2 separate regions of the Homo sapiens genome follow, and region 2 is linked to region 1. Evidence: fine-mapped expression QTL. Tissue or cell type: whole blood. Region 1 holds a variant in brackets; the other region holds the start of a gene. All regions are shown on one strand. Distances are between the middles of the regions.

The links. PIP is the estimated chance that this variant, and not a neighbour inherited with it, causes the effect.
Region 2: POLE starts here. The variant in region 1 is fine-mapped to the expression of POLE in whole blood (TOPMed, PIP above 0.99).

Annotation. Positions count from the first base shown.
Region 1 is chr12:132,647,740-132,655,841 of GRCh38, forward strand. It overlaps POLE (DNA polymerase epsilon, catalytic subunit), which reads right to left. Exons shown (of 49, transcript NM_006231.4): 30 at 1,938-2,150; 31 at 1,567-1,776; 32 at 1,190-1,333. Among named protein-coding and RNA genes, the nearest start is that of P2RX2, 33 kb to the left of the region's middle. The variant G/A (reference allele first, on the strand shown) is at 3,294.
Region 2 is chr12:132,682,681-132,690,782 of GRCh38, forward strand. POLE (DNA polymerase epsilon, catalytic subunit) reads right to left here and starts at 4,662. Exons shown (of 49, transcript NM_006231.4): 1 at 4,574-4,662. The coding sequence starts at 4,635. PXMP2 (peroxisomal membrane protein 2) reads left to right here and starts at 4,907. Exons shown (of 5, transcript NM_018663.3): 1 at 4,907-5,112; 2 at 7,583-7,696. The coding sequence starts at 4,991. RefSeq lists a silencer at 4,113-5,422.

The DNA.
Region 1 (8,102 bases):
CCACAGCACCACAGCACCACGCATCGAAAGGAAGGTGTAGAAACCCCACAGTCCCACCTGTTCTCTGTGGTCTCGATGCCTCTGCGTCCGCTTTCCTCTTGTTATCCGCCCACCTCGGTCTCCCAAAGTGCGGGGATTACAGGTGTGAACCACCACACCTGGCTCTGCGTCTACTTTCTATATGCACATTCTACTGAATCACCTGGCTGGAATCGAGTTTCACCTTCTCCAGAAAACCTCCTTGTGTAGGTACAAATATGCACACCTCATCTCCCCAACTACGTGTCACTTCTTACGTGATTCACAGCATCCAGTCAAGAAATGTGCTGAGCCGACACATTAACAACGGGGAGTTCGGGTGGAGATGCCATCTAAGAGCCTCAGCGCACTCATGGCCACATGAAAACCCTCGCAGTTTCTGCAGGTGGAAGAAGCCCAGCACAAAGACCCACCTACTGTAGGGTTCCATTTACATCAAATGCCCAAACAGGCAAACCCAGAGACAGGAAGTGGATCAGTGGCTACTGAGGGCTGGGGGAGGATGGTGACAGGTAAGGGATGCCAGGTTTCTTTTTGGAGTGATGAAAATATCCGAATGGGGGGGTGAGGGGAGGGGGAATATCAGGATAAACAGCTAATGCATGTGGGGCCTAATGCCCAGGTGACGGGGTGATGGGTGCAGCAAACCACCATGGCATGTGCTTACTTATGTAACAAACCTGCACTTTCTGCACATGGATCCCAGAAATCAAAGTAAAATTAAAAAAAAGAAAAAAAAAGAAAATGTCACTATTGACTGGCAATAGTCATGCCACTAAAAGTCATTGAATTCTGCACTTTAAATGGGTGAGTTGGATGGCGTAACTTTACATCCCAATAAAGCTGTTAACAACCAAAGAGCCTACGGAGACAGAGTTCACAATCTCTAACCAATGCCACTTGGTTTGTCCCCGCAACATGGACCTCGCGGGCAGACAAGCTCATCGTGACAAGGACACCAGCAGCTCCATTCCCGGCACTCGCTCTGCCCCAGGCTCGGTGCTCAGCGCTCACACACGTTGTTTTGAGGAATTCCTAGAACATCCCCATAAGGTACTGAGGAGATGGAGGCTGGAGGCCAGGCTAGATCATGGGAAAGCCACCTCAGGCTGCCCAGATGACTGCAGAGGCAGCACCAGCTCCTCCCTACCTTGCGATACGAAGCACCCTCCTCCGCTTTAGCGACTCGCTGGTTCACGTAGAACACACGGGGGATGCTCAGCCTGATGCAGTGCAAGTCACTGCCAACGAGCGCCCACAGCCTGAACAGGCCGGCCTGGCTGGTCTCGCTGATCTGAAAGGCCACACGGACATACAGCACATCACAGGACACACTGGAACCCACAGACGGGGCCACCTTCCAGGTAGCTTGCAGCTCCCAGCACAGGGCCTTAGGCCTCCCTACGATGGGCAGGAAACTCCAGGCCCACTCTAACCCTCCCATCCCAGACCTCAGGGCCCAGCTGGACACCCCCTCCCTGGGCCATCAGCAGAGCCACTGCCCTCCCCTTGGATCAAGGTCTATACCTGCACAATCTGCCACGGAAGGTCCAGGATGCTGCGGGCAGTTCTTCGCAAGAAGCTCCCCAGCCCCGTGGCAGGACCATCCCGGATGGCCCCGGGCCTGAGCACACCCTCTGCCGACTCCAGACGCTGCCTCTTCCTGCGGGCGAGGCGCTGCCGGGCCTGCAGCTGCCACTTCTTCTTGTGGAACCGGAGCCAGACAAGCCATTCCTCCTGGGATGGATGGTGAGCACAGCCAGTGTGCAAGTGGTGAGATGGGAATGCCCGCCATGACTTTCTCACAAGCAGCCTCCCTAGGGGTCAGGACGCATCTCGGGCTCCCTGGGCTGTGCAGACCCCTCAGAGACAGACAGTATCACAGCTGTGTGCCTTACCTGGCTGGTTCCCAGGGCGGGAGGCTGCCCCAAGATTTCCTGCCAGGGCACAGTCGGCGTGAGGTCCTGGGACTCCTCCTGGCTCTCCCAAAGAACTCGCTTCCTCTTCACAGTGACAGGGGCTGCTGGGTGAGGCAGCTTTACGAGGCCGAAGTCCTCCATGTCAGGAGCACTTGGCCTCGGACTGTCTTCTGAGGCCTCGGCCATCGTGACCTGGAAAGACCCAGTGAAGCCTTAAATCTCAGGATCTCGGGCTGCGCAGGGTGGCTCATGCCTGGAATGCCAGCACTTTGGGAGGCCAAGACAGGAGAATTGCTTGGGGCCAGGAGTTTGAGACCAGCCTGGGTAACAGCAAGACCCTGTCTCTACAAAATATATTACAAATTAGCCAGGCGTGGTAGTGCGCCTGTAGTCCCAAGCTACTTGGTAGGCTGAGGCAGGAGGATCACTTGAACCCAGGAGTTGGAGGCTGCGGCGAACTATGATCACACCACTGAACTCCAGCCTGGGCAAGTGAGACCTTGCCTCATAAAAACAAGCAAACAAAAATCTCAGGATCTCATCCCCACAAATTCTACTTCTCGAAATCTAGTATAAGTATATCACCTGAAATGGGATGTTCGTTTACACAAGTTTATTGAACCTTTAATAGTGAAGGCCGGGTGTGGTGGCTCACGCCTGTCATCCCAGCACTTTGAGAGGCTGAGGTGGGCGGATCACTTGAGCCCAGGAGTTTGAGACTAGCCTGGCCAACATGGTGAAACTCCGTCTCTACAAAAAATAGAAAAATTAGCTGGGTGTGGTTGTGTGGGCCTGTGGTCCCAGCTACTTGGGAGGCTGAGGTGGAAGGATCACTTGAGCCTAGGAGGTAGGGGTTGCAGTGAGCCAAGGTTGCGCCACTGCATTCCAGCCTGGGCGAGAGGGTGAGACCCTCTTTCAAAAAAAAAGTGAAAAGATCAAACCGAAAAATAAAACGTCACTCAATACCACCAATAAGTAAATCTTTGCATTTTGCCATGTTTGCTCCAGAATGCTTTTTGTAAGAAAGAAAATATTGCAAATAATGGGTACAGCCCTCTTCTGTCTGCCCCCACACACCTTTAAATTTTTACCACATGTCCACAGACACATGCCACAGCTGTAAGTTTTAACCTAAATAGTAACATGTGGGACACATCTGACTGCAACTTGTTTCCTTTTTTTTTTTTTTTTTTTTTGAGACAGAATCTCACTCTGTTGTCCAGGCTGGAGCGCAATGGCACGATCTCATCTCACTGCAACCTCGCCTCCTGGGTTCAAGCAATTCTGCCTCAGCCTCCCAAGAAGCTAGGATTACAGGCACCTGCCACCAAGCCC[G/A]GCTAATTTTTTGTTGTATTTTTAGTAAAGATGGGGTTTCACCATGTTGGCCAGGCTGGTCTCGAACTCCTGACCTCAAGTGATCCACCCACCTCAGCCTTCCAAAGTGTTGAGATTACAGGCGTGAGCCACATGCCTGTCCCTGCAACTTGTTTCTTTATTCAGCCATGTATTTTTGAGACTGACACCGGGTGAAACATGCACATATGGTTCGTTCATTGTAACTGATGTGAAATGATTTATCATATAAACACATCAGCCTACCTACCCATGACTTTGCAAATGAAGAATGACAAGCGCCTACTTTTTCAAAACTACAAACTGTGACTCAATGACCATCTCTGTATGTGTTGCCTGGTCCCGGAGAACAACCACCTCCACCTCTAGCACCAGGGATTTCCTACTTCCCACAATCTTGCTACTTGATGCCACCACACTTACTTGCCTTCAGTGTGACCTGCTATCTAAATACATCATGCTGCATTTACCTCATCAACAGTAAGGCTGAACATCTTGGCCCTGTGCAGGCAGCTCCCAAAATGGCCCAACGACCCCCACTTCCTGGTGTTCACACCCTGTGTGACTCCTTCCCTGAGTGGGGGTGGGACCCGGTGACTTGCCCGTAATGAACAGATTCCAGCAAAAGTCATGGAATGCCACTCCTGAGAGCAGCTATAAAACACTGTGGCTTCTGCCTGGCTGGCACTCTCTCAAAAGTCCAGTGCCATGCTGTGAGCTGTCCTGTGAAGAGCCCCATGGAGCAGGGGACTAAGGATAACGTCCAGACAAAGGCCAAGGAGGAACCGAGTCCTGCCATCCCCATGGGAGGGAGCTCGGAAGTGGCTCCTTCTCCAGTGGAGCCCTCGGATACACGAGTGCATTTAAGTTGCTAAGTTTTGGGGTTACTTGCTATGCAGCAATAGATAGCTAACACGTTTATGAGCCATTTCTAACTTTTATACATTCTAAACATCTTCAAAATGTGACTCAGGCCTTTGTTTCATGGTGACTTCTGTGCTACATGTAAGTTTGTGTGTGTTGACTTCCTATCAGGAAAGTTTTCAAACATACACGAAAGCACAGTAATGAGCTCCCATGTTCTTATCACCAGTGTCAACAATTATCAACATTCTGCCTTTCTTGTCACAGACTACACAAGATTTAACTTTTAATTAATTGATCATTCTTTCCCTTTGTGATGTTTTTCACATGTGCCTTAAAAAAGCCCTTCCCACCCCAGCATCATAGTCTCCTGAGTTGTTTACCAAAGATTGTAGTTTCCTTTTTTTTTTTTTTTTTTTTTTTAAAGACACAGGGGTCTCGCTCTGTCACCTAGGCTGGAGTGCAGTGGTCATCTTGGCTCACCGCAGCCTCAACCTCCCAGGCTCAAGTGATCCTCCCACCTCAGCCTCCCAAGTAGCTGGGACTACAGGCATGCACAACCATGCCTAATGTTGTGCCGGATTTTTTTTGTAGAGACGAGACCTCCCTATGTTGCCCAGGCTCGTCTGGAACTTCTGGGCTCAACTGATCCTCCTTCCTTGGACTCCCAAAGCACTGCAATTACAGGCATGAGCCATCACACTCAGCCTTAGTTTCACACTCAGTGTGATACAACAACTTACTTCTCCAAATATGAAAAACCATTTTCACCAGCATCACTCACTGCAGTCCACTCTCTCCTTAACGATCTGTGACCTACCAACTTCCGACTAACAGGGGAGTCTGTTTCTAGGCTCCCAATCGGCTCTACTGCTCTCCTCTCATCTTGTCAAGATGCCATGATAGTGTGTCTCGTTACATAGTAAGATCAACGTGCCCTCCTTATTCTTCAAAATTCTTTGGTTATTCTTATCCTTACCCTTTATATGAATTTTAGGATTCGTCTGTCAAGTTCTATCCAAAAAGCTTTTGGCAGATTCTTTTTTATTGGAATTACACTGAATTTTATGAATTAATATGGGGCAAACTGCCATATTTTAATACTGAGTCCTTTCATCTGTAAAGATGGTACCTCTTTTTGTTACTTAGGTAAATTTTTATATGTTCAATAAAGTTGTGTATAGGCCAGGCATGGTGGCTCACACCTGTAATCCCAGTGCTTTGGGGGGGGCCCAGGCAGGAGGATCACTTGAGCCCAAGAGTTTAAGATCAGCCTGGGCAACAGTGAGACCCAGCCTCTACAAAAAATACATAGCCAGGTGTGGTGGTGCACACTTGCAGTCTCAGCTACTCAGGAGGCTGAGGTGGGAGGATAACGTGAGATTAAGAGTTCTAGGCTGTAGGGAGCCATGATCTTGCCACCGCACTCTAGCCTGGGTGACAAAGGAAGACCATGTCTCAAAAAGAAAAAAGTTGTGTAATTTTTTCTGTAAAAGTCTTACACACATTGTTACCATGAATTTATTCCTTAGTACATTATTTATTGCTATTGTAAATGGTATCTTTCAAAAAATATTTTGTTTCTAGTATAAATGAAAGCAATAGACTTTTATATCTTACCTTGGTATCTAATTGTTGCTGAAATACATATAAGTTAACACAAAATCTAGGTTTCCTTACATTTTCTGTTAACAAATTACATCGCCTGTAAATAATAAGTTGATGTCTCCCTTTTCAATCCTTAATTCTTTTTCTGGTTTAATTATGCTGGCTAGGATCTCCAAACTGTTTTGAACAGAAGCAGTGGTTAACAGGCATCCATTTCTTACTCCTTACTTCAATGCTTCCAGTGTTTTGTGGTTAAGTATGAGGTCTGCTGTTAGGTTTCAAGAACACTTTATCAGGTTAAGAAACATCTCATCTATTCTGATTTTGATTGTTCAAACTTTAACATGAGCAGATGTTAAAGTTTTACCGCATGTTGTTTCTGCATCTATTGGAGATGATCTTACGAGCCTTCTCCTTTAATGATGAATTAGTGGATTTCTCCCAAGAAAAACTAACCTGGCAAATTCTAAAATTAAACAGTGCTTGCTATTCCCAGCATAAGTCCTAGTTGGTCATATTGTTATTGTTCATGTATGTTGATATTTTTTCATCTATTGTTCATGGCCCGTAACTTTCCTTTCCTGTTTTCAATTATGTTACCAAAGTAACAAGGATTGCCAAGGTTACCAAATGAGCTAAGGGTTTTTTTTTTCCTTTTTCTCTTAAAAATCATTTGGGTTTGATGTTTCTTTTACACTTATTTTTTTTCGTCTCTTTTTTTTTTCTTTTTGTGGAGAACGGGGTCTCGCTATATTGCCCAGGCAGGTCTCGAACTCCTGGGCTCAAGCTATCCTCCCGCCTCTGCCTCCCTGAGAGCTGGGATTACAGGTGTGAGCCACTGCGCCTGGCCTGTTTCTTTTTAAGTGTCAATTTCTGTAATGGTTAAAGTTCTATTCAGGTTTTTATTACTTCTTAGGTCAGTGCATAACTTGAGGATACTGTCCGTTCCATCTATGTTTTCCAACTGTTTAGCAGAAAATGGGAATCCTTCCATTTTTTTAGGCTTTACTATATCTATAATGATGTCTGTTTTCATTAAAATAAAAAACTCTGTCCTGAAAAAGATGTGACCAGCCAGGACAACATGACAAAACCTTGTCTCTACAAAAAATTACAAAAATTAGCTGGATGTGGTGGTGTGCGCCTATAGTCCCAGCTATGCAGGAGGCTGAGGCAGGTGGATCAATTGAGCCTGGGAGGTCAAGGCTGCAGTGAGCCATGACTGCGCCACTGTACTCCAGCCTGGGTGACACAATGAGACCCTGTCTCAAAAGAAAAGAAAAAGATGTGACTATTTTCCTAAGTCTTTTCAAAGAACAACATTTTGGTTGTATTGTTTGTTTCACTCATTCTGGCTCAATTTTGTAACCTCTTTCTTTTCTTTCTTGAGTTGGGTTCTCCCTGTGTTGCCCAGGCTGGGGTGAAGTGCCTATTCACAGGTGCCATCATAGCCCACTACAACCTCAAATTCCTGGGCTCAAGCAATCCTCCTGCCTCTCAGCCTTCCGAGTAGCTAGGACTATAGGTGTGCACCACCATGCCTGGTTACCTTTATAACTCTTTATAACTTCTGTCTACTTCCTCTGATGGATCTGTTGTTCTCTAACTTTTTCAGTTGGAAACTTAATTTTCTATTTGTTTTTCTTTACTAATACATGCATTTAGATATATAAATGCGTATACAAGTCCTGTTTAACTGCATACTACAAATTTTAATAGCATTTGTATTTACATTCAGTTCCAAGTATTGTCTAAGTTCTATGACTTTTTTGATCCACAAGTTATAAATGTGTTTTTTTTTTCTTAAATTTCCAAACATGGTCTGTATTTAAGTTATCTAGAATTGGTTGCAGCTTACTCTGTGGTATATATATGGTCATTATTTTATGTATTCTTGAAAAGGATAGGTATTCTCTAATTTTAGTGCAAGACTACATTTGTTCACTAAATGTATTATAGCTAGTGACTAAATCTAGTTAGTTGATTGTGTCATTCCAAACATATTTTTGCTGATTTTTGGTCTGCTCCAACTATCAATTGAGGGAGGGATGTTAACATCTCCCAAACTGATTGGAGGTAAATTCTTCTTATAATTAGGTAAATGTTTACATTATTTAATGTGAGGCTACATTGTTACAATTAGTATATATTTCCAGAGAATTGTGACTTTCAGTATTATGTAACAATAGTCCTTATGTTTCCTAATACTTTTGGCCTAAAGAGTATTTTGTCTGGTATTAATACAGCCACATCAGCTTTCTTTTGGTTAACATTTACCTGGTATACGTATTTTTTACTCCTTTTGCTTTTCCTGCGTCC
Region 2 (8,102 bases), 35 kb after region 1:
GTGGCTCACAACTGTAATCCCAGCACTTTGGGAGGCCAAGGAGGGTGGATGACTTGAGGCCAGGAGTTTGAGACCATCCTGGCTAACATGGTGAAACCCCGTCTCTACTAAAAATACGAAAAATTAGCCGGGCGTGGTGGCGGGCGCCTGTAGTCCCAGCTACTCGGGAGGCTGAGGCAGGAGAATGGCGTGAATCCAGGAGGCAGAGCTTGCAGTGAGCTGGGATCATGCCACTGCACTCCAGCCTGGGCGACAGAGCGAGACTCCGTCTAAAAAAAAAATAAAATAAAAAAAGAACAAGATAAAAAAAGAAAGGAAGACCCTTCCTTTGTCTGAAGGTATTCCTTGGATCACCTTCAACTCAAGAGCAGAATGACCATATTCCAAGACTAGGATCCTTACTTCTCATGAAAGATTATAACCACTTGTGGTAGGCAGGCAGGATGACACCCCCCATGAAAGACCCACATCCTAATCCCCCAAACCTGTGAATGTTATCTTACAAGACAAAAGGGTCTTTGCAGATCTGACTAAATTAAGGGCCTTGAGATTCTGCTTAGCTGGGTGGGCGCAGTGTAATCACAAGAATCCTTGTAGAGTGAGGCAGGAGAGCTAGAGTCAGGAAGGAGAAAGGGATGGGAGAGAGAGGGTAGGGGGGAGAGGAGATGCAACCCTTGGTTCTGAAGATGAAGAAGCAGCAAGGAAACAGATTCTCCCCCGGGAACCATCACAATAAATATAACCAACCAGACACTTTCATATTACGACTTCTGACTTCTAAAACCGTAAGAGAATAAATTTATATAGTCACTAAGTGATCATGTGTTACTGCAGCAATAGGAAACTGATACACCACCATACTGTATAATAAAGGTTTAATCTTTTAAATAGTTGAATGCACCCGTAATCAAAAACACAGAAAAACTATATTCCAAATCTTGCTAGAGAACAGCCTCAGTTCTGAGTCCCAGATCTTTATCAAAATCAAGAGTGAATGAAGTGCTATTTACGAGGCATCACCTCTTAACAGGGGCGCACGGCCCTCTATGCCAGTCCTCCAAATATCCTTGCCTCAAGTAAGTTGGATTAAGTAGACTAGAAAACTGCTCACTGGGACCATATTTCCTCCCAAAACTGCTTTCTCTGAGCTGTGTATCTCACTTTTAATCCAGGGACAGTAAGAAATCTGAAAAATGGGGATAAGTGTCACACAGGGAGCTACCATCGACTGGTTACTATATCACACCGTCCCAGTACTCCACACAGGCTCTCATTCACAGAGAGCTACCATTGACTGGTTACTATATCACACCGTCCCAGTACTCCACACAGGCTCTCATTCACAGAGAGCTACCATTGACTGGTTACTGTATCACACCGTCCCAGTACTCCACACAGGCTCTCATTCACAGAGAGCTACCACTGACTGGTTACTGTATCACACCGTCCCAGTACTCCACACAGGCTCTCATTCACAGAGAGCTACCATTGACTGGTTACTGTATCACACCGTCCCAGTACTCCACACAGGCTCTCATTCACAGAGAGCTACCATTGACTGGTTACTGTATCACACCGTCCCAGTACTCCACACAGGCTCTCATTCACAGAGCTACCATTGACTGGTTACTATATCACACCGTCCCAGTACTCCACACAGGCTCTCATTCACAGAGAGCTACCATTGACTGGTTACTGTATCACACCGTCCCAGTACTCCACACAGGCTCTCATTCACAGAGCTACCATTGACTGGTTACTATATCACACCGTCCCAGTACTCCACACAGGCTCTCATTCACAGAGCTACCATTGACTGGTTACTATATCACACCGTCCCAGTACTCCACACAGGCTCTCATTCACAGAGAGCTACCATTGACTGGTTACTGTATCACACCGTCCCAGTACTCCACACAGGCTCTCATTCACAGAGAGCTACCATTGACTGGTTACTGTATCACACCGTCCCAGTACTCCACACAGGCTCTCATTCACAGAGAGCTACCATTGACTGGTTACTGTATCACACCGTCCCAGTACTCCACACAGGCTCTCATTCACAGAGAGCTACCATTGACTGGTTACTGTATCACACCGTCCCAGTACTCCACACAGGCTCTCATTCACAGAGCTACCATTGACTGGTTACTATATCACACCGTCCCAGTACTCCACACAGGCTCTCATTCACAGAGAGCTACCATTGACTGGTTACTATATCACACCGTCCCAGTACTCCACACAGGCTCTCATTCACAGAGAGCTACCATTGACTGGTTACTGTATCACACCGTCCCAGTACTCCACACAGGCTCTCATTCACAGAGAGCTACCATTGACTGGTTACTGTATCACACAATCCCAGTACTCCACAGGCTCTCATTCACAGAGCTACCATTGACTGGTTACTATATCACACCGTCCCAGTACTCCACACAGGCTCTCATTCACAGAGAGCTACCATTGACTGGTTACTATATCACACCGTCCCAGTACTCCACACAGGCTTTCATTCACAGAGCTACCATTGACTGGTTACTGTATCACACCGTCCCAGTACTACACACAGGCTCTCATTCACAGAGAGCTACCATTGACTGGTTACTGTATCACACTGTCCCAGTACTCCACACAGGCTCTCATTCACAGAGAGCTACCATTGACTGGTTACTGTATCACACCGTCCCAGTACTCCACATATGCTCTCATTCAGTTTTCATGACAACCCCTACGAGGGAGGCCACTGGTGTCCCCATTTCACACAAGAAGAAACGCAGGCAAACAGCACCCACTGCCTCCTGGGGCACACTCACCTCCCAGGACTGTTTTAAGGATGAGATGAGGTAACCCACATAAAGCATGTAAGGTAAAAGCCATCACTTGTACTTATCCCAGCAGCAGCCTTCCCCCTGCCTGGAGGCCATCACTGAGCTTGGGGCAGGGCAGTGGAGTGGAGCACGTGAGTGCAGTCCTGTGTCCTGAAGCAGGGCAGTCAGTAACCGTCTCTAAGCTCCAAGTTCCAACACACCATGTAGACCCTAAGGGTACCTGCCTCTCTAGGGCTTGCCTGATATGGACAGACAGCGATGAGCACAACAGCAGTTAGGGATCCTTACCACTTGGTTTCTCCTCTGGGAAGAATTTTGTTCAGCTAAGTGTCTGTAAAAAGCTTCACGTTCTCACACGTTTTTTCTATTTTTTTTTTTTTGAGACAGAGTTTCATTCTTTGTTGCCCAGCCTGGAGTGCAATGGCGCGATCTCGGTTCACCGCAACCTCCGCCTGCCGCGTTCAAGTGATTCTCCTGCCTCAGCCTCCTGCGTAGCTGGGATTACAGGCATGCGCCACCACGCCCCGCTAATTTTGTATTTTTTTAGTGGAGACGGGATTTCTCCATGTTGGTCAGGCTGGTCTCGAACTCCTGACCTCAGGTGATCCTCCTGCCTCGGCCTCCCAAAGTGCTGGGATTACAGGTGTGAGCCACCGCGCCGGGCCTCATCCGTTTTCTGCTTATGGCAGGCCAGTCCTCCGGTCATGTTTACCGTTTGCTCTGGCCACCAAGCAGCCGCGTCTTATCCTTGCTCTATTTTTTTTGAGACTGGGTCTGGCTCCGTCGCCCAGGCTGGAGTGCGGTGGCGCGATCCCGGCTCACAGCAGCCTTGACCTGCCGGGCTCAGGTGAACCTCCGGCTCGGATTCGGGAGTATTAATAGCTGGGACCTCGGGCGCGCACCACCAGCCTGTCTAATTTTTCTTGTTTTTACAAGAGAAGGGCCGGGCGCGGAGTCTCACGTCTGTAATCCCAGCACTTTGGAAGGCCGAGGCGGGCGGATCACCTGAGGTCAGGAGTTCGAGACCAGCCTGGCCAACATGGTGAAACCCGGTCTCTACTAAAAATACAAAAACTAGCCGGGCCTGGTGGCGGGCGCCTGTAATTCCAGCTACTCGGGAGGCTGAGGCAGCGGGATCGCTTGAACCCGGGAAGCAGAGGTTGCAGTGAGCCGAGATCGCGCCACTGCACTCCAGCCTGGGCGACAGAGCGGGACTCCCTGCCCAAAAAAATAAAACAGAGGAGACGAGGTCTCTCTCTGTAGCCCAGGCTGATCTAGAACAGGATCCTGGGCTCCAGCGATCCGCCCGCCTCGGCCTCCCCCAGCGCTAGGCCCCCAGGCAGGGTCCCCGGCCCCGCCCCTCCCCGCACCCTCCCCAGCCGCGCGTCCACCCCGCAGGGCCTGGCCCGGGTCCCGCCGCTCTCATCGCCCCCGCCGCGCGGCAGGTCCCAAACGCAGCTGCGCGGAAGGCGAGGCCCGAAAAACCTCAGAAAGAGCCGAGCAGGGAAAGGCCGCGCGGCCCGCCTCGTTTCCCCGCAAAGAAGCCGCGCCCGTAGCGCCTCCGCCCGCCCCGAGCCCCTCCGTCGGCGGTCGGGGCGCGCCGCCCTACCCCAGTCAGGCGCGGCGAGTGCGGGCGGCTGCGGGAACCGGGCCTCCCTCCCGCCTCGGCGGCGCCAGCCGAGGACGGCCCCATGGCACCCTCCGGAGGGCCGGCCCGAGAGCCTCAGGAGGGCGCCCCTCACCTGCTGGCCTCGCCATCCGCGCCTGGGTCCGCGCGCCGCCGCCCGCCGCTCCTCAGAGACATGGAGCCGTTGGCTACCACCTCTGCTTCAGGGGAGAAATTTGGCGCGCTCCCACCCAGACTCGCGAGAGCCGGAAATGCCGCCGTCCATCAAGAGGCGCGCTCCGCCCCTCCCCCGCCCCCCGAGGCGCTCCAATTGGCGCCGGCGCCCGGCGGGGGAGGTGGCCGGCAGGGACCGGGGAAAAGTGTGTGGTAGGCGCGCGCGGCGCACCGTGGGGTTGGGACCGGGCGGCGCTGCGGGCCGCGGTGGGGCCGGAAATGTCAGGCGGTCCCCACTCCGCTCTCGGCGCCTCGGGCTCCGCGCCCGGCCAGCCTGAGGTGGGGTCGGTGCCCCCGGCGGCACGGCGCTGGGGAGGCGATGGCGCCGGCCGCGTCCAGGCTGCGGGCCGAAGCCGGGCTCGGGGCGCTGCCGCGGCGGGCGCTCGCCCAGTACCTGCTCTTCCTGCGGCTCTACCCGGTGCTCACCAAGGCGGCCACCAGGTGAGCGGGGGCGCGGGAATCGGACGCCGCCCCGGCCCCAGGTCGGCCGCAGCGGCGCGGGGCCTGGACGGGAGCGCCGGGCCGGGACCAGGCTGGGGGCGCGCCCGGGTCAGAACCCCCGGAGCGGGCGCCCTCCGACCCGGCGCTGAACTTCCCGCGGCGACACCCGCGTCCGCAGTCAGCGATTGTGAGGCGCCTTGCGGATCCCGCCCTCCCAGCGCGTGGAGGGCCCGCCCAGACCCGGGGGTCGGCGCTGAGGTTCCACCCAAGGACCCAACAGGGGCCCCGCGCGCCCGGGGAAGCCACGGCAAGGGGAGCGGGTCCGCAGGCGCGGGTGAAGACAGGGCGAGGGGAGCGGGTCTGCGGGGCGCGGGTGAAGACAGGGCGAGGGGAGCGGGTCTGCGGGGCGCGGGTGAAGACAGGGCGAGGGGAGCGGGTCTTGGGGGCGCGGGTGAAGACAGGGCGAGGGGAGCGGGTCTGCGGGGCGCGGGTGAAGACAGGGCCAGGGGAGCGGGTCTGCGGGGCACGGGTGAAGACAGGGCCAGGGGAGCGGGTCCTCATGGAGCGTGTGGAGACAGGGCCAAGGGAGCGAGTCTGCGGGGCGCGGGTGAAGACAGCGCCAGGGGAGCGGGTCTTGGGGGCGCGGGTAAAGACAGGGCCAGGGGAGCGGGTCCTCATGGCGCGGGTGGAGACAGGGCCAAGGGAGCGGGTCTGCGGGGCGCGGGTGAAGACAGGGCCAAGGGAGCGGGTCTGCGGGGCGCGGGTGAAGACAGGGCGAGGGGAGCGGGTCTGCGGGGCACGGGTAAAGACAGGGCCAAGGGAGCGGGTCTGCGTGGTGCGGGTGAAGACAGGGCCAGGGGAGCGGGTCTGCGGGGCACGGGTGAAGACAGGGCGAGGGGAGCGGGTCTTGGGGGCGCGGGTGAAGACAGGGCCAGGGGAGCGGGTCTGCGGGGCACGGGTGAAGACAGGGCGAGGGGAGCGGGTCTTGGGGGCGCGGGTGAAGACAGGGCCAGGGGAGCGGGTCTGCGGGGCACGGGTGAAGACAGGGCGAGGGGAGCGGGTCTTGGGGGCGCGGGTGAAGACAGGGCCAGGGGAGCGGGTCTGCGGGGCACGGGTGAAGACAGGGCCAGGGGAGCGGGTCCTCATGGAGCGTGTGGAGACAGGGCCAAGGGAGCGAGTCTGCGGGGCGCGGGTGAAGACAGCGCCAGGGGAGCGGGTCTTGGGGGCGCGGGTAAAGACAGGGCCAGGGGAGCGGGTCCTCATGGCGCGGGTGGAGACAGGGCCAAGGGAGCGGGTCTGCGGGGCGCGGGTGAAGACAGGGCCAAGGGAGCGGGTCTGCGGGGCGCGGGTGAAGACAGGGCGAGGGGAGCGGGTCTGCGGGGCACGGGTAAAGACAGGGCCAAGGGAGCGGGTCTGCGTGGTGCGGGTGAAGACAGGGCCAGGGGAGCGGGTCCACATGGAGCGTGTGGAGACAGGGCCAAGGGAGCGAGTCTGCGGGGCGCGGGTCCGCACGGCGCGGGTGGAGACACGGCCAGGGAAGGTGTTTTGAGAAGGTGACATTGAACAGGCTGTGTAAAGAAGTGGAGCAGAGGCTCTCCTGGCACAGGGAACAGCAGGGCAAAGGTCTCTGTTAGGTTTTGAAGGGAAGGCCGGCGTTAAAGAAAGGCGGAGAGAGGTGCAGCTTGGACTCAGTCCCGAGGGAGGGAAGATCTGTGTGTGGAGAAAGTGAACCCTGAGCAAGAGGCAGGAGATGTGAAGGGAATCGCCAGGGATCTGATCGAGAAGGTGTCTAGGTCCGTGCTAGGAATTTTGGATTTTATAGTCCAGAGAGCTTCTCAGAAGGCAAATACAAACCAAGGCCTGGAGGGAGCCACTGGGCCTGTTCCACCTTTTTATGGAAATTTTTATTGTGATAATTGTAGATTCACAAACAGTTACAAGACTAACATGGAGAGATTCCTTGCACACCTTCCCAGTGTCCCCCATTGGTTACATTCTGTGAAACGTAGTGCAGTATCGACCAGGGCATTGCGTGGACACAGTCCACAGATCCTATTCGGATTTCTCCATTTTTCTTGTAGCTGTATCTGTTCTGTACAGTTTTATCACATCTGTACATTCTTGTGTTCACTACCACAGTCAAAATGCAGAACAGCGTCATGATAGGGCTGTCCTGTTGCCCGTTCATAACCACACAGCTTCCCAACTCCCAAACTGCCAAATTATAGTATAACATCACAGCCAGGATGTTGACATAGATACTGGAAAGCCACTTGTCCTTACCTGTGTGTTTAAGTCCACCGTCTCCACCTTTTGATACAAGAACTATACATTGCAGCCGCTTTAACAAGAATTCCTACCCCCCGCCCATCTGCTGCATGGCCTCAGAACGGCCCTGCTAATTCACCTATGGGAAAGGGACACCCTCCTGCTGGTCACTGCTGTTTTCTGATGACCTCCCTCTCCACAGTGGCATTTTGTCAGCACTTGGGAACTTCCTGGCCCAGATGATTGAGAAGAAGCGGAAAAAAGAAAACTCTAGAAGTCTGGATGTCGGTGGGCCTCTGAGATATGCCGTTTACGGGTGAGTGCCATACAAGGGGTGGGTTTACCTTGTAGCCGCTGAGTGCAACCAAGCTGGGCACCAAAACCGAGTAGTTGGAGTACTCTTATTTGGAAATATAATTTTTTAAAAACCATTGTAGTAATCATCATGGGAAAAAACTCGAATGGTTCATATAGTTTGTATGGCATATATACGCATACGTGGTTTTTTTTGTTTTTTCTTTTTTTTTGGAGACAGAGTCTCACTCTGTCACCCAGGCTTACTGCAACCTCTGCCTCTCTGGTTCAAGTGATTCTCCTGCCTCAGCCTCTCAAATAGCTGGGATTACAGGCACACACCGCCATGCCCAGCTAATTTTTGTTATTTTTAGTAGAGATGGGGTTTCACCATGTTGGCCAGGCTGGTCTTGAACTCCTGACCTCAA